Linked DNA regions of Homo sapiens: region 1 is linked to region 2. A link means that fine-mapping ties the variant in region 2 to the expression of a gene that starts in the linked region. Tissue or cell type: monocytes. Region 2 holds a variant in brackets; the other region holds the start of a gene. All regions are shown on one strand. Distances are from middle to middle.

Region 1 (8,000 bases), 230 kb after region 2:
GGTAAGTTTGAACCTTTAGGAAGCATTTGATCTACTAGAGAAGTAAGAAGTATATACTTCACCTGAGAAACAGCCCAAGGCAGCATAAGTGGGGTAGGGAGGTGCAGACCAGATACATGGATTCATAAGGGCCGAAGAGGTTGAGACCTCTTCGGTCTCAACCCATGAGAATGAGATTCTCATGGGGTGGGGTTAATCAAGCACAGTTTTATGGAGGGAGTGAATCTTGAGCCTGGATGTGAAAGTAGTTTAATATCTGGATTGCTGCAGAGCAGAGGAGAATGCTTCCTTGGGAAGAGGATCAGAATGAGGTCTTGGGGGAAAAGTGGGGTTTGTTCTAGGAGTAGAAGGACATTGGAAAAGGAGACTTCATGTTGGGAAATTCAGGAAAACAATGAGAGGTAAGATGAGGCCACATTGGAAATAAAGAACTGGGAACCACTATACGTTTTCAAATAGGGGAATATTATGATGTAAAATTAGTATTTTAGGGAAAACTGGTATTGTGTCTATGTGCACTTGTGAGTGAGACCACGAAGAACTACTCTGGTGTTCAGATGCCAGAAGGGTGAGTACTCACCTGGAAATTGGGAAGGAAATGAGTGAACCTGATGTACATTTTAGGAGGTATTTGTCTATTGTGCTGAGGTCCATAAACAGTCTTTCTCTACAGTACGAGAAATGAGTGGCCAAAGGGAGAGAAGCCACAGGACTCCAGCTAGCAAGGCCTGCTCCTCCTCCACCTGCCCCTCCCCTGTCCCATGGAAATCATCCAGTCTGAGGCCCCTCCTTCAACAGCAATGCAGCCAGGAGTTCACAAAGGGAAGCATTTCCTTTCCAAAGACTGCTAAGATGGTTTACCCTGTTATGCCAGGAATGTTAACAAAATTGCAAATGTACTTTTATTCTTTTGTTTTTTCTCTTTTTTTTGAGACGGAGTCTCACTTTGTCACACAGGCTGGAGTGCAGTGGTGCAATCTCGGCTCACTGCAAGCTCCACTTCCCAGGTTCAAGCGATTCTCCTGCCTCAGCCTCCCAAGTATCTGGAATTACAGGCACCCATCACCACGCCCAGCTAATTTTTGTATTTTTAGTAGAGATAGGTGTTGCCATGTTGGCCAGGCTGGTCTCAAACTCCTGACCTCAAGTGATCCACCTGCCTCAGCCTCCCGAAGCGCTAGGATTACAGGCATGAGCCACCGCACCCTGCCTGTTTTTTTTCTCTCTCTTTTTTTTTTTTTTTTTGAGGCAGGGTCTCAATCTGTCACCCACGCTGAAGTGCAATAGCACAATCACGACTCACTACAGCCTTGAACTCCTGGGCTCAAGCGATCCTCTGGCCTCAGCCTCCCAGGCACCACCATGCTCGGCTAACTTTAGATTTTTTTGTAGAGACAGGGTCTCACTGTGTTGCCTAGGCTGGTCTTGAACTCCTGGGCTCAAGCAAGCCTCCCACCTCAGCCTCTCAAAGTGCTGGGATTATAGGTGTGAGCTACTGCACCTGGCCACAAGTGTATTTTTTTTTTTTTGAGACAGAGTTTCACTCTTGTTGCCCAGGCTGGAGTGCAATGGCGCAGTCTCAGCTCACTGCAACCTCCACCTCCCGAGTTCAAGCAATTCTCCTGCCTCAGCCTCCCGAGTAGCTGGGATTACAGGTATGTGCCACCGTGCCTGGCTAATTTTGTATTTTTAGTAGAGACAGGGTTTCTCCATGTTGATCAGGCTGGTCTCGAACTCCTGACCTCGGGTAATCCACCTGCCTCGGCCTCGCAAAGTGCTGGGATTACAGGCGTGAGCCACTACTCCAGGCCAAGTGTATTTTTTTTTTTTTCAGACGGAGTCTCACTCTATCGCCCAGGCTGGAGTGCAGTGGCACGATCTTGACCCACTGCACGCTCCGCCTCCCAGGTTCACGCCATTCTCCTGCCTCAGCCTCCTGAGTAGCTGGGACTACAGGCGCCCGCCACCACACTGGGCTAATTTTTTTGTATTTTCAGTAGAGACGGGGTTTCACCGTGTTAGCCAGGATGGTCTCGATCTCCTGACCTCATGATCTGCCCGCCTCGGCCTCCCAAAGTGCTGGGGTTACAGTTGTGAGCCACTGCGCCCGGCCGCCAAATGTATTTTTAAATTACACATTCTATAGCTCCCCACTGGGTGACCAAGTAAGAGTGCTTTTCTTTTCTTTCAGTCAACAAATATTTTTCTAGCAACTCCCACATACCCCTGTGTACTATCCTATCCACTGGGGAGAAAAATGGTAAATAAGACCGTTTCCAGAGCATATGAGGGAAAGAAACAAAACCACAACAGATGAGCACGCCACACTATTCCATGGCACATTAAATGCTGCGGCTAAAACATGCAAGAAGCTAGAAGTAGAATAATGGCGATGGGGGCCTTCTCTGGGAGGGATGGTCAGGGAAGGCATCTTGGAAGGTGTGGCCTCAGTGACAAAGGAGGCCTGCTCAGCACCCTTGAAGAGGTCCCCACCTAGGCTCGTGGCTATTTCTGGACAGGTTTCTGGATGTGACGGTGCCTGTCTGAGGAGAGGGGCAGATGTGGGAGGTGGCTCCATTTCCTGCAGGAGTCTTGAGATGCTTGAGTCCCTGGGTGCTGGGGAAGTCAGTTCTAGATATCAGTGGGTTTGTGTGAATGGCTAATGACCTGAAATCAACCCCTCATCCTGTGGGGCAGAGATGTTGTTTCAGGCACTGCTCTGAAGTATGGTGGAAAGCACAGAGTTGCTTGGGGTCTCAGCTTTACCTGTCCCGGTCTCTCTTTTTGGTCTCTTAACTCTAGGCTGGATGGACATGGCCCCTTAAGGAAATGAAAGTGAGTGACTGAGTCCTAGCAGAAAAAGGAGGAGATCTTGGAGTTCCTGTCTTCCAACACGCACCTCTTTGGTTGTGATGGTGAAGTGGGACAGTGCCATCTCAGCAGGGACCTTGGATGTGCTCTAGAGGGGGTCTTGGAGGTGTAGCATCGTTACATCCCCTCCCACCATCCTGCCTACACAGTGGTTTTGGGGGCACAGATATTTCAGAGAGTAGTCTTCCCAAGAACCCTACATCAAGTATGCTACCACCCCTTCCCATTCTTGATTCTGGTCCCCTCTTTATTTTCCTCATAGTATTCACTGGACCTAACTTATGATACATTTGTTTGTTCACTGCCATGTCTCTGGCACTTAGAGCAGTAACTGGCACATATTAGGCACCCAGGGTGTAATTCATTTGATTAATGAATGTATTGAATGGCTGCATGGATGAATGAAGAGGAGGAACAGAGCAGATGTCTGACCAGCTCATTCTGGCTTCTGGAAGGATCCTGATTGGGAATTTTGCATCTTTCCCTCCCCACAGCCTCCTAGTCACTACTACTAAAGAATAGAGACCCTGACTCCCACTTTTTTTTTTTTTTGAGATGGAGTCTTGCTCTGTCACCCGGCTGGAGTGCAGTTGTGCTATCTTGGCTCACTGCAACCTCCACCTCCCAGGTTCAAGCGATTCTCCTGCCTCAGCCTCCCAAGTAGCTGCGACTGCAGGCATGTGCCACCACATCTGGCTAATTTTTATACTTTTTTATTACAGGTGAGCTTTCACCATGTTGGCCGGGCTGGTCTCGAACTCCTGACCTCAGGTGATCTGCCCACCTTGGCCCCCCGAAGAGCCCCGCATTCTTAACTACTGTGTTTGGTATGTTTGAATTGACACTTGCCTCTTAGGAAGGGGAATCTTTTTAGACCCTGGGGAAATCTGTAGTTATTGCAAAGGCCTTTTCCTGCCTGTTGGGCATTTACCAGATCTTTCTTCCTACACAAGGAGAGCCTCCCCTGGTTGAATCCTGCTATAAATCTCACTAGTGACCCACAAACAGGGGTCCCAATGTGACCTGCTCATTAACACAAAACCGTCAGCCCCCATACAGCTTCCTGCCTTCCCAGTCGGGTTGAGGCAAGAAATTTCCATTCTGCCCATGCTGATGAAACCAGTCGCCAGCATTTACCTTTCTAAGGGGTCCTTTCTCCTCCCACCCCAGCCCACCCCAGCACAAGAATGTAAGAGAGGGCAAACAGCTGCCTGGCTTCAGTTCTATGGCCACTCAAGAATTGGCTCGCATCTGTCTGCCAGGACAGAGAGCGTCCTGAGGGGGCTGGTGTGTGTGTTGTGTGTGTGTGTGTGCACGCGCGCGTGCATATGTGTGTATGGGGGAGTTCAGTTTCAGGTACCACACATCTGGAAGTCAGAGAAAGAAGCCACTGCACATGTTAGAGCCATTTTGGGGGGCAATTTTTAAAAAAAAAAACATTTTTAATGGGCTGAGAGCCGCCTCGTGGAAAGCCCGGGGCGGGGGATGGAGTAGAAACAGCTGCGGGAGTGATTCTTGTCTCCATATATGTTTATAAGGCACTGAGGGCGGGATTAGCAGCTCCTGGGAAGTCTGGCTCTAGTTACCGTGTCAGCCTGTCCTGGGGGCAGTCACAGCCACAGTGACCATTAGCAGGCACCCAGGCCTGTCTTTGGCTCGGAAACGGTGGCCCCCAATGTAGCCTAGTTTGAACCTAGGAACTGCAGGACCAGAGAGATTCCACTGGAGCCTGATGGACGGGTGACAGAGGTGAGAGGCACTGGTGTGAGGGACAAGTGTCACAGGCGGGGAGGAAGAACTCCGCTATCTGGTGGTGGAAATGTGTGAGGATCAAAGTCCCCAGGGAGAGTAGGTGTTGCGGGCGGCAGGGTGGTGGGCTGGGCACGGGCTGGGCATAGGCTGGGCAGGAGGCTTCGGGGCCGCGGGGAGGAGGCTGGAGAAGCAGGAGGGCACGGGCGGCCCTAGCTCTGCAACCCCGGGAAGGACTGGTAGGTGGAGTTAAGGATATTTGGACAAGGAAACGCTTTGAAGCTTTTCTCTCGTCCTCCCTACTCGGGACCTGGTCGCCTCCCCTCCATAAAACCATTAGCTCCTGGTGCCAGCCCTATCTCTGCTCCATCTCTCGTGGTTCCAGCCGGTGCATTCACAGACCTTCTGCCCCGGGGGACGAGGAGGATTTATGGGGGGAGAGGAGAGGGGGAGGGGCATCCTCCAGAGGAGGGGGGGTCTGAGGGGAGTCGGGCGTGGAAGCTGTTAGTCCCGGGCTGGGGGCCGGCTCACTTCCGAGCTGGCTCTGCATGACAAAGGGGAAGGAGCAAGTGTCTTCTTTGATCTGCCCCCTGCCGGCCCCACACACCTGCCTGTTGGTGCCCCCGCCCCAGCCGAGGCTTCGAGAAGGAAAATCAAAAGGGGGCTTGGGGAAGGGCTGTGTCCCAGCTCTCCTGGACCCTGCTCGGGCCACTGTCCTCTCCTGGCGGCCCCAGGACAAAAATACTTCCCGGGCTGATGACCCGAAGCACCCGCCGCCCCCTCCCGGGGAGCCTGGGGACGCCGACGCGCGAGAGTGGCGCAGTGAGCCGGGGCGCGCGGGGCTGCGCTCGTCAGGTCCGGGGCCCCGGGGAGGCCGCTGGGGGCGCGGGTCACGCCCAGACGGGGGCCCCGGAGGACCGCGGGGGAGCCGCAGGGGCCGTGTGTCCCGAGGCGCAGGCTCGCTCTAGCAGCACTGACCTGCTGCGGGTCCCAGGGCCTGGGGACAGGGGCTCTCGGGGGCGGATAGAGGAACAGGCGTGGGTTACAGCAGGCAGGAGGCCAAGAGGCGGGAGGCCCGGGAGCCAGCAGGGAAGGGCTGTGGCATCTGGAAGATGCGTCCTCAGCTCAGGCATTTGATGCCAGAGCTGCCGCCTGGCGTCGGCAGTGTCCCCGGTGCAGCTGCTGGGCAAGGTACTCGGTGCCGCCCTCGAGGACCACGGTGCCGGGAGGGGCAGGGGCCGCCTAGGGAGGCACCACCTCAGCCGCCAGAGCTTTCCGGGCGGGCGGTTCGCGGCGTGGCTTGTACATTTCTCAGAGAAGCTGCCTTGAGAAAGTGAAAAGTCCTTGATCTGTACGCAGGGGTTGGGACTTAGGAAACCCGCTGAGGGTGAGAAGGGCGCAGATGGAGAGGGGAGACTCCTCCCTGGGTGCAGGTAAATCCAATTCACCAAAATGTTTTAATCCTACAAAGGAGAGCCTGAGGGTCAGAGAAATAAGTCTCTGGGCTGGAATGAGAGGTAGGCACGTGGGGGAGTGGATAGGATGGGCCCCATTTCTTTGGATGTTCTGCAGCAAGGACAGGTATGCTTTACAACAGCCGAAGTGGCCTCCCGGCTGCCGAACGGAGGAACGCCGCAAGCTCCGCTCTTGAAATTACTTGTTTTCATTTCTCTTTGTGGTTTCTCAGCTCATTATTTCTTTGGAAATTAGGTCCTGTGCAGGGTTCCCACAGTTTGGGGTAAGAGACAGAAGTCCTAGGGTGGGAAGATGAGCAGTGGGAGGCGGAGGCTGGAAAGAGGCCGAGCTTCTTTGTGGGGAACACGCAGCACGTAAGCATCAGTGCAACTTTCTCCGCCTCACCCCGGCTCCTGGTCTGCCCTTATCCGCTGAGTTTCCACACTGACTCTCCATTTCTGTTTTCTCCAGGGAACCCTACTCTGGAAACTGTCAGTCCCAGGGCACTGGGGAGGGCTGAGGCCGACCATGCCCAGCCTGCTGCTGCTGTTCACGGCTGCTCTGCTGTCCAGCTGGGCTCAGCTTCTGACAGACGCCAACTCCTGGTGGTGAGTAAGAGGGGCTGAGGTCCTGCCTGCACAGCCGGAGGCCTCCTTCAGCGACTGAGATGAGGAGGAAGGGCACCGTGTGTCACGGTAGTACCTTGATTCCTGGGAGTACTAAGGGCCTCTTTTATCCCAGGAAAACTAAGAACGCTCTGTGTCTCTCTCAACCCTTATCTTTGTAAGGGTTCCCTGAGGATAAAGGTTCCGTTCATTTGATTTTTTTCTCTAATCCTGTCCACATTCCTTTTCCTTGGACCTTCCCTCATGCCCATGAATTGTTAGAAATTGCTCTTGGGTCAACAAGAATATCAATACTTGGTAGTTTTTTGTTCCTTTGTTTTGTGTGTTTTGCTGGTAGGATATAGAATTCCTCTTTTATAAGTCTGAAGGCCAGATGAGGGGTTCACAGCACCATGGGTGGCTGGCTTTCTTCTTATGTTTTAAGGGCTGTTGTCATTGCCAAGTTGACAGGGAAATGGCAGGCGATCACCACCTATTTTGCATGGTCTCTGCCACTAGCATTTTTACTCAGATAGCAAATCTGCAGCCTTCTCATCTAACACTCTATATGGCTGGTAGATGATGAGCAAAAGGGAGAGCCTCTGAACTGGTGGAGAGTGGATGAGGGGAAGCTCAAAGTGAGACATGGCAGTGAAAACAAGTAGACTAGATCGTGATGTATGTAAAGTGATTGGATTTTAAAGGCCCAAAGGGAGTACCACGCAAAGGATTGATTGCTTTCCATGGCTTATCATGTACTTGGGCTGCACTGAACTAGTCACTCCTACTCATTGAATGAGGCCTGTGCTCTCCTGTTGAGGTTTGGCTCTTTTTGCCCTCTATTAAAATGAAGAGCTGCTCCCCACCCCTCGTCTTCTTATCTGCCTGACCCCCATTCTTAAGATCCAGTTCAAATTCTGGCCATTTCCTTATAAAGGCTTCTCTTCAGCCATAAGGGCTATTTTCCTATCTGATCACAGCAGATCCAGAAGCATATCCAGAGTCTGTCTGGGGCATTTGGCATCTCGCATGTCCTTTGTGTTCATGCCTCAGATTCCTTCAGTTTGTCCTTTGAAGGCCAGCACTCTGATTTACTAATTTTTCTTTCCAGGGCCTTGTACACAGGGACGCATTCAATAAATGTGTTGAATGAATGACTTAATGCTGCACACAGGCGTATGCTCACTCCTGGGCCTTTTTTTCCCCTTTCTGGATTGCTGTCCTAGGTCATTAGCTTTGAACCCGGTGCAGAGACCCGAGATGTTTATCATCGGTGCCCAGCCCGTGTGCAGTCAGCTTCCCGGGCTCTCCCCTGGCCAG
Region 2 (8,261 bases):
TGTCACTACTTGTCTGGGAAGTTCCTACCTGAAGATCACAAAGAAAGAAATGTACATGGTCCTTACCCATTCATAGTAAGATAATGGCAAGCTGAGGTGCTTTGTGACCAAAATCGAGAATTTAACAACACACTCAATTAAGCAGGCTGTGCACATTGGGAACTCTGATACTCTCCTGGTGGGAATGCAAAATGTAGACCTCTTATAGAGGCAGTTTGGCAATATGTAGTAACATTGCTTATCTGTGCGTTGACTTTGTGACCCAGAAGCTTTACTTCTAGAAATTGGTCCCACAGACACATCTTCAAAAATACAAAATAACATATACACAAGGAAATTCATTGCTATAATATTTATAATAGCAACAGATTCAAAATAACCCAGTTGTGCCACAGTGGGATATTTGTTGTCAATTATAGTATATCCATCAGAGTGGAATACTGTGCAGCTGTAGAAAGGGATGAGAAAGATCTCTATTGATATGGAGCGATTCCCAGAACATACTGTTAAATGAAAAAGCAAGATGCAGAATAATGTATTTAACATATTACTTTTTATGTAAGAAAAGGGGGAACATGTGCAATTATATGAGTATATGATTGCTAATAATTGCAAGAAGAAACAATTGAAAGACAAATCAAAAATTTACCCAAAAAAGTTACCTCTAAAAAGGAGGGAACAGGATAGAGGAGACAGGGGTGGAAGCAAGCCTTCTGTGATTATACCTAGTTATATAGTTTTGACTCTAGAATCAAATGAATGTATTACATAATCAAAAATAAAATTAGATCTGAAAAAAGGAAAAAAGCAGTCCTTGAAATTTAAAAACAAACAGAAACAAATGAATCTAATTATATATTAAATTGTTGACATTCACATTGAGCAAATAATTATTTCAGCTAACTTTATAATACAGATTTTTCTCTGTACATCTCAGTAGGATAAACTCCAAGTAAAAGAACAAAAATGCGAAGTTTTTTTTAGTGGTCTCACTCTCTCCCAGGCTGGAGCGCAGGGGCACAGTCACCACTCACTGCAGCCTCAACCTCCCAGGCTCAATCGATCCTCCCACCTCAGCCTCCCAAGTAGCTGGGACTGCGGGCACATGCCACCGTGTCTGGCTAGTTTTTGTATTTTTTGTAGAGATGGGGTTTCACCATGTTGCCCAGGCTGGTCTCAAACTCCTGGGCTCAAGTGATCCTCCCTCCTCAGCCTCCCAAAGTGCTGGAATTGTAGACGTGAGCCACCGTGCCCAGCCCAAATAGATTTTAGAGTTCATCCTGAAGGCATATTGATAGTAATTGTATTGGTTTTGAATTTTAAAAGCATTATATTGTTAGAGAAAACAAATAACAAGTAATTATGTTATTGTTAGGAACCAAAATTTTTCAGCATAAGAGAAAAAAATATAAAGTATAAAATCAAAGTAGTTTAGTAAACCCAGTCTTCAAGACTGAGATCTGTAATCTTAAATCTGAATTTAAAACATTACTGTTAACCAATAATTTTCTCCCTTTTAAAAAAATATTTATTTCCTATCTCTGACTGAACCAGACTAGAAGAAATGATAAATAATAAACACCCCACAGCCGGATTGTGGTTTCCCACTTAGTCTGTGTATGGTATGCTGCTATAACAAAGTCGGTAGGTAGGTAGATTATAAAGAACAGAAATTTATTTTTTCACAGTTCTGGAACTGGGAAGTCTAAGATCAAGGCACCAGCAGGTTTGGTTGTCTGGTAAGGGCCGCTTTTGACTTTTAAGATGGTACCTTGTTGCTGTATCCTCCAGAGGGCAGGGACGCTTTGTCCTTGCACACATCTATTCATTTACTCATTTGTTTATGTAATGAGTTCCCTAGTAAACTTCAGTGCTGACAAATGAGTTTATTTTCTTTTCTCCTACTTTTTTTTTTTTTTTTTTTTTTTTTTTTTTGTTGAAACAAGGTCTCACTCTGTCAACCAGGCTGGAGAGCAATGGTGCGATCATGACCCAAGGCAGCCTTGACCTTCTGGGCTCAAGCAATCCTCCCACCTCAGCCTCCAAAGTACCTGGGACTACACACAGGCATGTGACATCATGCCCAGCAATTTTTTTTTATTTTTTTGTAGATACAGGGTCTGGTTATGTTGCCCAGGCTGGTCTCAAACTTATAGGCTCAAGCAGTCCTCCCACCTCAGCATTCCAAAGTGCTGGGATTACACGTGTGAGCCATCACGCCTGCCCTCTCTTAATATTTTTTAAGAGCAAAAGCATTATTTACTTACATGGCTGCACATTGGCTTATTTTATATACCTTTATTGAGATATGATTCACATCCCATGCAATTTACCCGTTTAAAATATGCCATTCCATATTGTTTAGTAAATCACAGAAATGTGTAACCATCACTACAATACCCTATTTTTTAAAGTATCTTTTTCTAGTATTATTTCAGTGTCATCGCTTTTTATATATTAAATACATTTTCACAAATTGAAAGCATTATTGATTTTGCTGCTCAAATTGTTAAATGTAGCCATTGTCCCTTTCCCCCAGGCCTGGCAACCACTGATCTACTTTCTCTATATATAGATTTGCCTATTCTGGAGATTTCATATAAGTGAAATAATATACTATGTTGCCTTTTGCAGGACTTCTTTAACTTGGCATCATGTTTTCAAGGTTCATTGATACTTGTAGCATGTATCAGTACTTCATTCCTTTTTATGGCTAATAGCTCATTATATGGATATGCCAGATTTTATGTATCCATTCATAAGTTGTTGGATATTTGGGTTGTTCCTCTTTTTTGACTATAATAAATAATGATGCCGTGAACATTTGTGGGTGCTTTTTTGCATGGAAACACGTTTTCAGTTATCTTGAGTATATACCTAGGATTGGAATTGCTAAGTCATATGGTAATTGTATGTTTGCCATTTTAAGGAACTACCAAAATGTTTTGCAAAGAGACCTTACCACTCTACAATCCCACCAGCAATATATGACCGTCCCTACACATTCTCACCAACACTTGTTATTGACTTTTAATAGCCACCCTGGTGGATGTGATGTGGTATCTCATTATGGGGTTTTGTTTGTTTTGTTTTATATTGTATTGCTTCTCCGTTGTTCCTGTAGATCACTGTGGCTTTGATACGCATTTCCCTATTGGTGTTGCACATCTTTTCTTGTGCTTACTGCCTATTTGTGAATCTTCTTTGTTGATTGAAAAGATTCAAATCCCTTGCTCATTTTTAATTGGGGTATTTGTATTTTTATTATTGAGTTGTAAGAGTTCTAGACACAAGTCCTTTATCATATATATGATTTATAAATATGTTCTCCCATCCTGTCGTTCTCTTTTCACTTTCTTGTTGATACTGTTTACAGCATAAAATTTTATAAATTTTGATGTGCTCCGATTTATTTTTTTTTCTTTTGCCGCTTTCGCTCTTTGGGTATATTATCCAAGAAATCACTGCCTAACCCAGGCCTCAAAGATTTACTCTTATGTTTTGTTCTAAGAGTTTTATAGTTTTAGCTCTTCCATTTAGCTCTTTGGCCCATTTTGAGTTTATTCTTTTATATGTTCTGAGACTGAGACTTAATGAGTTTGACATCATTTTCTTTGCATGTCTATTTCTATTTGTCCCACACCATGGGATGAAAAGAGTATTCTTTCTCCATTAGATTGTCTTGGTACCCTTACTGGAAATCAGTTGACCATAAAAAAATGATGATTTGTTTCTGGACTCTCAATTTTGTTTCATTGATTTCTTTGTCCATCTTTATGCTGATAACACACTGTAGGTAAACCTACTATTTACTGTAGGATCTGAAATCAGAAAGTATGAGTCTTCCTAACTTTATTCTTCTCATTCAATATTGTTTTGGCTATTTTTGTATTTTTTTTTTTTTTTTTTTTTTTTTTTTTTTTTTTTTGTGACGGAGTCTTGCTCTATCGCCCAGGCTGGAGTGCAGTGGCGTGATCTGGGCTCACTGCAAGCTCCACCTCCCGGGTTCACGCCATTCTCCTGCCTCAGCCTCCCGAGTAGCTGGGACTACAGACGCCCACCGCTGCGCCCGGCTAATTTTTTGTATTTTTAGTAGAGACGGGGTTTCACGTGTTAGCCAGGATGGTCTCCATCTCCTGACCTTGTGATCCGCCCGTCTCAGCCTTCCAAAGTGCTGGGATTACAGGCGTGAGCCACCGCGCCCAGCCCTATTTTTGTATTTTTTAAAACACCATGTGAATTTACAGTTCTCTCAAAAATTGAAGAAGCAGTAATAGAAGTAGCACTAATAGTAGCAGTAGTCATAGTAGTAGAAGAAGAAATGCTGTAGCAAATAAAGGGGAGGGAGGATAAAGGAAGCAGGTAGAGCAGTAGAATCGTTTCTGAAGGAGGACATGGATGTATGGGTTTTTTCTGTTCTTTCCTCTGGTGTATGTTTGGAAATTCTCCATATAAAATATAATTATTTTAGTTTTAAAAGGAGAACAGGCTCTGAAGCTAGACTGTTTGTATTAGAGCTCTAGCCCTGTGACTTATTCATCATATGAATGTCGCTAAGTTATTTAGGCTCTCTGTACCTCAATAAAATTGACATGCAAATTGTACCAACTTCATATTGTTGCTATGAGGATTAAATTACCTAAAGCTCTCAGAATACTTGGCACTTAGTAAGTATTCAGTAAATGTTGGCTTGGAAATTGACTATTTTTGAAGGGAGGGCGGTAAAAAAAAAAAAAAAAAAGAGTATTTTTAAAAGTACACGTAGATTTACCAAATAATCAATAAATCTAGTTATTCAATTAAAAACTTAGTGGCAAGTTAACGTATATGAAAGGAGAATTAATGAACTTGAAGATTCTGCCGAAATTATCCAAAATGCAGTGCAGAAGGATAAAACAAAATTGAAAATATCAAAGAGAGATTAGGAGACATGGAAAACAGACTGAGAAGGTACATTCATCTGATAGGAGTTTTGAGAAAGACCATAGGGGAAATTCAGAAGGACCAATATTGCAAAATAGGAAAGTA[T/C]ACATTTAAAAAACTGGAAATTACAGATTTTGCAAATTAGAAAATAAGGAAATTGCAAATATTGTAAAAAAGAGAAATTGCAAAATATTTAGAACAGGGAAAAACACTTTATATCAAAATTTGTGAGATGCTGCTAAAGCAGTTCTTGGAGGAAAATTTATACTCTTAACACATATATAAAATTGAAAATGAAAAGGCTGGGCACGGTGGCTCACGCCGTAATCCCAGCACTTTGGGAGGCCAAGGCAGGTGGATCACTTGAGGTCAGGAGTTCAAAACCAGCCTGGCCAACATGATGAAACCCCGTCTCTACTAAAAATACAAAAGTTAGCTGGGCATGGTGGCGGGCATCTGTAATCTCAGCTACTCAGGAGGCTGAGAAAGGAGAATCGCTTGAACCCGGAGGTTGTAGTGAGCCGAGATCACACCACTGCACTCCAGCCTGGGTGACAGAGAGAGAGACTGTCTCAAAAAAAAGAAAGAGAAAGAAAAAAAGAAAGAACAGTAATGAGCTAAGCATCCAAATCAAGAAATAGAAAAAGAATATCTGTGTAACCCCCAACACACACACACACACACACACACACACACAAAAGAACAAAGAAAATAAAAACAAATTAAATGAAATAGAAAACAAGCTGTAAGAGAAGATCAGTGAAACTAAAAGCTAGCTCTTAGAGAGGATTTAATGACTTAATTAGATGTGAAATACATAGTGAGACAGATTGTTCATGAAGAAAAGACCAGATATTATAATAATTTTAACAGTGACTTAATCTGATGTCCCTTCAGACTTCTATTACTAAAGAATTAATTAGTCTGCTTTTATTCTGGTTAATAGAACCTGCAACTGAACTCTCAGATTTTTTTTATCAATACTAAAACACAAATCTAATTAGAATTTAAACTTTTTCTTTTAATAGCTGCGTTTGGATAACCTATCCTGTCTCTTAGCTTATGTATTCTTCTATGAAATGTAGTTTCTGTAACAAGTTATTTTAACATTTTGGACATTGACATTTTTGTCGTAGAAGAAAAAATTAACAGAATAGACAACTAACTCCTTTTTCCTCTGGGAGGGTATGTATACCTGGAGATATACATTGATAGCAAAGAAGTCTATTTCAGCAAGTTTCTTCCTTCTTCCCTTCTTCCTTTTTTTTCCCCCTTCCTTCCTTCAGACAACGTTATTCTTTATGTCGTTGGGACCAGGGGTTTCATCTCCCTGCACATGCACCTGGCACGGTTCAAGAGGAAAAACATTTGGATATAAAATATCTTTCATGTCAGTAAAACATGAAGGAATTACTCCTTTTGCTTTTTGGTCTTATCTTGAGAAGAGCATACTATGAGAGCCCCTTAAGAGCACAGAGTCATTTATATGATCTGTGTAACATCTAATGCTCTGTGAGCTGTCAGATATTTAGTGCTCAACATCATAACTATGCAGGGAACAGACTTCACACCAAGTTTCTTCATACTAGACCTAGGAACACTAAACTTTGATCATCTTCGTGTCTTTTTGGAAATGGAGAAGTAAGTTCTTACAACTGTTTTTTTCATTCTCTGACGTGGATCAAATAAGGAATCTTTGGTCTTATCTGTCCACTTGGATCAGTTTTTTTCAGGCAGGCATACGTACTCACTCCTAAGAAGTACTTTAAATGCGTTCTGCCTTGAAAATGGATTTGTGTGTACTTTATTAGGATTTCTTTTTAAGTTTTTAAACTTATGCTAGATATCAGATATTAAAGATTGTCTCATGTTCTAAGAAAATAACTAGCCAAGTCTACTTTCACCCACATTCCTGTTAAAGTCAACATGGAAAGGTTTCTTAACCAATTGAATGACATGATACAGATGTTTCGCTCACTTTCTGTATATGCCTCTTTCCTTTCTTCTATTTTCCTTTTTTCTGAGAGCTGCTTTGCAGAAGACTTTGTCATGAAATACCACATGCCATAAGAAAAATTAGCCTACATCTTTTCAAGATTGTCTTAGTCCATTCAGACTGCTATAACAAAATAACTCAGACTGAGTAATTTATAAACAATAGAAATTTATTGCTCACCATTTTGGAGACCAGAAGTGCAAGATCAAGGCAGCAGCAGATTCGGTGTCTGATGAGGGCTTGCTCTCGGCTTCGTAGATAATGCTGCTTCACTGCATCTTCACACTGCAGAAGGGCAAACGGGCTCCCTCGGGCCTTTTTCCAAGTATAATGGATACATTTATTTATTTACTCATCCATTTATTTATTCATTCATTTATTTACTCATCCATTTACTTATTCATTCATTTGCAATAATCCTTTGAACAACTACTGTTTGCAAAAAAAAAAAAAAGTATGTTATTTGCCACCAGTTTGATAATGGAGATAACAGTTCTATATGAAAAAATCGATAGTTGGTCTCACAAGCAAAGTGTGCTGGGAGAGCAAAAACAGAAGAAAAACATTATTTTCATATTTTCTCTTTTGAGTGAGACACTGTCCTCTTTAGGAGTTCAGTTTCCTACCAGTGATAGAACTAGATATTTACATCTCCCAAATCAAAGTACAAACTTTGGCCATAGAACCTTGTTCCTCGTTATTTTCTTTTTATTTTCAACTTTTATTTTAGATTCGGGGGATGCATACACAGGTTTGTTCCCTGGGTATATTGCATAGTACCCTCAGGCCTTTTTTACAGGGATGCTAATCTCATTCATGAGGGTTCCACCCTCTGACCTAATCATCTCCAAAAGGCCCATTTCATAATACCACCAAATCAAAGGTTAAGTTTCAACATCTAAATGTGGGGAGAGCCGGGCGCAGTGGCTCATGCCTGTAATCCCAGCACTTTGGGAGGCTGAGGCAGGCTGATCACTTGGGGTCAGGAGTTTGAGACCAGCCAGGCCAGCATAGCAAAACCCTGTCTCTACTAAAAATACAAAAAAAATAGCCAGCGTGGTGGTGTGTGCCTCTAATCCGAGCTACTTGGGAGTCTGAGGCAAGAGAATTGCTTGAGCCCAGGAGGCAAAAGTTGCAGCGAGCTGAGATCTCGCCACTGCATTCCAGCCTGGGCAAGAGAACGAGACTCCGGCTCAAAAAATATAAATAAATAAATAAATAAATAAATAAATAAATATAAATAAAATAATATAAAATTGGGGGGAACACAAACATTCAGACCATAGCAAAGGTCTCTGGGGGTCCTCCCAGAAAAGAGAAATTTGATTCACAGATAATTTAT

Direction of the effects. Positions count from the first base shown, and alleles are read on the strand shown. Sizes are in standard deviations (SD) of each study's normalised expression.
For the expression in monocytes of the gene that starts at base 4,480 in region 1, C is the high allele of the variant in region 2 and T is the other (large effect, 1.4 SD a copy in Quach 2016).

Evidence for each region. PIP is the estimated chance that this variant, and not a neighbour inherited with it, causes the effect.
Region 1: WNT5B starts here. The variant in region 2 is fine-mapped to the expression of WNT5B in monocytes (Quach 2016, PIP 0.95).

The regions. Positions count from the first base shown.
Region 1 is chr12:1,624,752-1,632,751 of GRCh38, forward strand. It overlaps WNT5B (Wnt family member 5B), which reads left to right and starts at 4,480. Exons shown (of 5, transcript NM_032642.3): 1 at 4,480-4,620; 2 at 6,547-6,683; 3 at 7,907-8,000. The coding sequence starts at 6,604. RefSeq lists silencers at 5,398-5,587, 5,618-5,677, 5,632-5,926 and an enhancer at 6,108-6,207.
Region 2 is chr12:1,397,026-1,405,286 of GRCh38, forward strand. The region is part of intron 16 of ERC1 (ELKS/RAB6-interacting/CAST family member 1); the gene reads left to right. Among named protein-coding and RNA genes, the nearest start is that of LINC00942, 99 kb to the right of the region's middle. The variant T/C (reference allele first, on the strand shown) is at 5,029.